Regions from separate parts of the Homo sapiens genome. Here region 1 is linked to region 2. A link means that fine-mapping ties the variant in region 2 to the expression of a gene that starts in the linked region. Tissue or cell type: whole blood. Region 2 holds a variant in brackets; the other region holds the start of a gene. All regions are shown on one strand. Distances are between the middles of the regions.

Region 1 (2,614 bases), 26 kb before region 2:
AGCATGTGCCACCACGCTAATTTTGTATTTTTAGTAGCGACAGGATTTCTCCATGTTGGTCAGGCTGGTCTTGAACTCCCGACCTCAGATGATCCGCCCGCCACGGCCTCCCAAAGTGCTGGGATTATAGGCGTGAGCCACCGCACCTGGCCCTGTTCAGCATTTTCTAGACGGGAGTAGGTAAGCGATGTCAGTTCCACATAAAGTCCTGAGGACAGTCCTGATTACCTGTGCTTGATCAAAATCATCTTTCCGGGGGAAACCACACTTGAAGCTCCCATGTTTCAAGCCAACTCTAGTGTGAATTAGTCTCTTAACGAGCTAGACTTACACAAACCAGTTAACAGATTCATTTCACTTTGTAGTCCTCGAGGGATTGTTCCTGCTCCACTGCACAGACGAAAGCAATCCACTGAGACCACGGTACTGCGGTAATAAGACTTTGGCCAGGTGCGGTGGCTCAAGCCTATAATCCCAACACTTTGGGAGGCCAAGGCAGGCAGATCACTTGAGGTCAGGAGTTTGAAACCAGCCTGACCAACATGGCGAAACCCCGTCTCTACTAAAACTACAAAAATTAGCCAGGCGTGGTGGCGGGTGCCTGTAATCCCAGCTACTCGGGAGGCTGAAGCAAGAGAATCGGTTGAACCCGGGAAGCGGAGGCTGCAGTGAGCCGAGATCGCGCCGCCACTGCGCCGCAGCCTGGGCGACAGAGCCAGACTCCGTCTCAAAATAAAAAAAAAAAAAAAGAAAAAAAGAAAAAAAATGTGGAGCTAGCCCCACGGGTTTAGGACCCTTGACTCCTCGTTAGATGCTTCCCAGTATTTCAGAGCATCCCTTTGTTGGGCCCCCGGAAGGTCGGTCCCCTACTAGTAACGTGGGGTGAACGGGGGTACGTCTGCCGTAAAGTGGGAGGCGGCTGATGGGGACAAAGGCTGGGTCCCGAAGAAGCGCAGGGTCAGAAAAGTGCCCCCCAAAGCCGTCCCTGCACCCGAACCCTAGGATGGCCTCGCGCAACCGCAGGGCCGTCGGCACTGGTTTACGACCTGGGCGGGGCGGCCCGGACACTCTATGCAAATCAGCCCGGCGGACTCCGGAAGCAGCGCTCCCTCCGCTTCCGGCCGAGCCCGCGCCCCCCAGACCCCGAGAGCTCGCAGCTCCGGCCCGGCGGCGATGGCGCGGAGCGTGCGCGTGCTGGTGGACATGGACGGCGTCCTGGCCGACTTCGAGGCCGGCCTCCTGCGGGGCTTCCGCCGCCGCTTCCCTGAGGAGCCGCACGTGCCGCTGGAGCAACGCCGCGGCTTCCTGGCCCGCGAGCAGTACCGCGCCCTGCGGCCCGACCTGGCGGTAGGGGGCGCAGGGTCCCCACCCGGGCAGGGCCCGCTCGCTCCGTTCCGGGGGTCTCCCCCTTCTCTGTGAAGGGCGCAGAGCTCTCACCCTGGAACCCGCGGGCAGCGCACCCTGGGGAGGAGCCTTTGGGCGCGTGCCCCTGACCGACGCCCCCTCCGCCCCTCTGAGCTCGGGCCCGGAGCCCCCAGGAGCCTCCCTGCGGGTCCTCGCGGGAACGGGAAGCCGGGACCCAGAACTCTTGTCTTTCAGGATAAAGTGGCCAGTGTGTACGAAGCCCCGGGCTTTTTCCTGGACCTGGAGCCCATCCCGGGAGCCTTGGACGCTGTGCGGGAGATGAACGACCTACCGGAGTAAGGAGAGAGGGGGGCGGGCGGAGTCCTGGGCGGGCTCCTGGCTCCCGGCGGTAACCGCGTCCTTCTCCGCAGCACGCAGGTCTTCATCTGCACCAGCCCCCTGCTGAAGTACCACCACTGTGTGGGTGAGAAGGTGTGGCTGCCCCGCCCCTACTCCGCACGTGGAGCTGCCTAAATCCTGATTTTAAAAAGAAACCACCAGAAACCCAGAAGGTGGGGGTGGGGGGCTCTCAAGGGCTTAGAGCCAAGTCCCTATCCCTGAATTCCGGCTTCCATCAGGCCCTACTCACAGACTGTGTTTTCTACACAGTACCGCTGGGTGGAGCAGCACCTGGGGCCCCAGTTCGTAGAACGAATTATCCTGACAAGGGACAAGACGGTGGTCTTGGGGGACCTGCTCATTGATGACAAGGACACAGTTCGAGGTTGGACCCGTTATCCTTGGCAGCCTCCAGGCCTCTGGCCTGCCCGGATTAGGGAGAGGGAGTAATAATACCCATGACAGATGGCAGCGCGCTGTCTTTCACTGTCCTAGGCCAGGAGGAGACCCCAAGCTGGGAGCACATCTTGTTCACCTGCTGCCACAATCGGCACCTGGTCCTGCCCCCGACAAGGAGACGGCTGCTCTCCTGGAGTGACAACTGGAGGGAGATCTTAGATAGCAAGCGCGGAGCTGCGCAGCGGGAATGAGCGGGGATGCCGCGGGCAGCAGCTGGAGCTAAAGGAAGGGCAGGCCCACAGGGGCCACCGCAGAGCCGAGTCGGGGCGGCATCGTGCTGGTGCCTCTGGCCCCGTGGAGTGGAGCAGGCAGATACCGTTAAGCGCTGTGCTACCGGGCCCCAGGCCCAGCCACCCGGTACCTCCCGAGAGGCTGTCCCTGGACCCTGGCTGGCATGGAAATACAGTGGGAA
Region 2 (2,726 bases):
TAGAGCTGGGGTTTTGCCATGTTGGCCAGGCTGGTCTTGAACTCCTGACCTCTAGTGACCCACCCATCTTGGCCTCTCAAAGTGCTGGGATTACAGGCGTGAGCCACCACACCCAGCCTTTTTTTTTTTTTTTTTTTTAAAAAAAAGACAGGGTCTTGCTGTGTTGCCCAGGCTGGCCTCAAACTCCCAGGTTTGAGTGATCCTCCCACCTCAACCTCCCGAGTAGCTGGGATTACATGTGCGCACTGCCATCTCCAGCTGATATCTTTTTTCTTTAAATGTTTTCAGGAAGTGGGCTCATTACGGGATGCACACAAAACCTGGTGGATACTAGCACCAAAAGCACCTATCTACCAGCCCCACCTCCCTCCTTTTCCATTCAACTGAGATGGAGCAGACAGGATTTGGCAAAGTCCATGCAAGCACTCTCCCTTCAGAGCATGTGGTATTGATGGCAGCCAAGTGTAAGACTGGGTGGGGAGCCAGAAGGAAATGGAGTCGTCAGGATGCTCACCGAGTCAGACTTTTCAACCGGAAGAGACTAGCTCATCCAAACCAACCTCCTACGTTTTCTTTTTTAAAATTAAATTTTATTATTTTGCTCTAACAAAGTAACCTCCTACTTTTTCAAGGCTCAGAGGTGGTCAACAATTTGCCCAACTCACATGGCAGATAGTGGCGGAGTCAAACAGGGCACTCAGGTAGGGCTATTCCAGCCCAGAGCCGTTTGCTTGGCCTGCAGTACCGCCTTTGGCCATAAGAGCCACTCATGGCTGGTCCTGGAGGAGGCAGGACATCCCCAAAGATGCTTATTGACGCCAGCTGGACGTGGCTGGCGGGAAGACTGGCACCTGTTCATGAAAATAAAATCTCCTGATAAGGTTTTCTTGCGGAGCCTGGTTGAGCCTGAATCAACAAACAACATCCTGAACCTGAGCACCCCTTGCTGAGCTAGGAGGAAAGGAAGGGTGAGGGGAAACGTACTCCAGCTCTGTTTGTCAGCTTCATTAGTTCACAGAGTTTATGACCTGCTGCAGGGAACATTTTTGTGTGTAATTCAAACACATTCTGTTTTATCATTCCCTCGGTACCCTGCTGGGACAAGAATGGGCTGATGACAGCCAGCCCCTGGGTGGTGACTTCAGGGAAAGGCACCAGCAAGATGTGTGTGTGGGGAGCTTGGACCGCCAGTCACAGGCACAGGTGTA[C/T]GGGGAGCAGGGGTGAGTCCAGCCAGCCACTTACCCCAGGGTTGACACCAATAACACGGCAGGGAAAAGGGGGGCCTCTGGAGGACAGGAATGGGGAGTAAAAGAGCTTCCCTTGCAAAAGCAGCCCCATTTTCACAACAGTCTTCGGGCTGCCTGGCAAGCCTTCCTCTCCCGTCAGTCAAATGTCTGGCTTCCCCCACCTGGCACTAATCCTCCCCGCCAAGGAGACAGGGTGGGGAAAGGAAGGAGGAAGCCCCTTGATAGAGCAGGTCCTGCTGAGACTGCAGGGGGGCCCTCAGACTTCACCGATTCTAGGATCCAAGCCAGGGGCCCCCCTCCCGTTCTCTGCACAGGCGCCAGGATGGGCGCGCCACTCAACTCCTCAGCCTGGACCTCTGCACTGCCCAGTGCGAGGCCCAATGACCTTCACTGGGGGCAGCTGCACCACCAGCCTTGGCTGCCCTACAGGTGAGGGCTGGGTCACTTGGGAAGAGCAGGGCAGGAGGAACCTAGAGGAAGGTGAGCTCTTCAGAACGGTATGGAGGCCAGAGAAAGACAAAGAGAAATGATAGAGGCATCCAGGCTGGACGAGAAGGTCCAGTGCATTGAGCTGTAGGAGCAGCAACACACAGCCAGCTGCGCTGAGCCGGCTGGGACAAACCTGAGCAGGGCTCAGACCCAGGTTCCTGGGCCCCGAGTACCCTGGTACCCAAGGAAAAAAGTCCGGAGGGCCTGCTCCTGGATTCCGCTAGTTGTTAGAAAAGGGTTCCTCTGGCTGGGCACGGTGGCTCACGCCTGTAATCCCAGCACTTTGGGAGGCTGAGGTGGGCAGATCACCTGAGGTCGGAAGTTGGAGACCAGCCTGACCAACATAGAGAAACCCCATCTCTACTAAAAGACAAAATTAGCCGGGAGTGGTGGCGCATGCCTGTAATCTCAGCTACTTGGGGGGCAGAGGCAGGAGAATCGCTTGAACTTGGGGGGCAGAGGCAGGAGAATCCCTTGAACTTGGGAGGCAGAGGTTGCAGTGAGCCGAGATGGTGCCACTGCACTCCAGCCTGGGCAACAAGAGTGAAACTCCGCCTCAAAAAAAAAAAAAAAAAAAAAGAGTTTCTCAGGGCATCTTCAGAGGCCAGCCTCCAAAGTCCCAGCTCCTGGCAGAGTCCCAGCTTGCAGAGCCTGGACAGCCCGGGCTTCCTGGGCTACTCTTCACCCAAGCCCCTGGTGAAGGAGCTAGAGGTCCCCCTCCTGGGCTGGGCTGAGACAGTGTTCACTCAGTGATCCCAGGACTCAGACACTGGTCACACAGATGAACCCTGGGTCTTAGACGCTGGTTACATACATGATCTCAGGGGACCGTTGCTTCCCAGGACCGTCTTTGGCTTCCAAGAAAAGATCCCGCTCCAGGGCATCCGCCGCGACAGCCTGCTTGCCTTGCTCCTTCTTCTGCAGGGCGTAGAAGCTGCCACCCATGAAGAGGGCAGCTGAGATGAGGAAGAAGCTGGACATGTAGAAAAC

The links. PIP is the estimated chance that this variant, and not a neighbour inherited with it, causes the effect.
Region 1: it holds the start of NT5C, and the variant in region 2 is fine-mapped to the expression of NT5C in whole blood (INTERVAL, PIP above 0.99).

The regions. Positions count from the first base shown.
Region 1 is chr17:75,130,267-75,132,880 of GRCh38, reverse strand. It overlaps NT5C (5', 3'-nucleotidase, cytosolic), which reads left to right and starts at 1,139. Exons shown (of 5, transcript NM_014595.3): 1 at 1,139-1,347; 2 at 1,600-1,700; 3 at 1,776-1,836; 4 at 2,014-2,128; 5 at 2,239-2,614. The coding sequence starts at 1,174. The coding sequence ends at 2,393. It overlaps ARMC7 (armadillo repeat containing 7), which reads right to left. Exons shown (of 3, transcript NM_024585.4): 3 at 2,609-2,614. RefSeq lists silencers at 977-1,546, 1,916-2,120 and an enhancer at 2,157-2,246.
Region 2 is chr17:75,104,005-75,106,730 of GRCh38, reverse strand. SLC16A5 (solute carrier family 16 member 5) reads right to left here. Exons shown (of 7, transcript NM_004695.4): 6 at 2,551-2,726; 7 at 569-851. The coding sequence ends at 698. Among named protein-coding and RNA genes, the nearest start is that of ARMC7, 4.6 kb to the left of the region's middle. RefSeq lists enhancers at 1,041-1,541, 1,542-2,042. The variant C/T (reference allele first, on the strand shown) is at 1,209.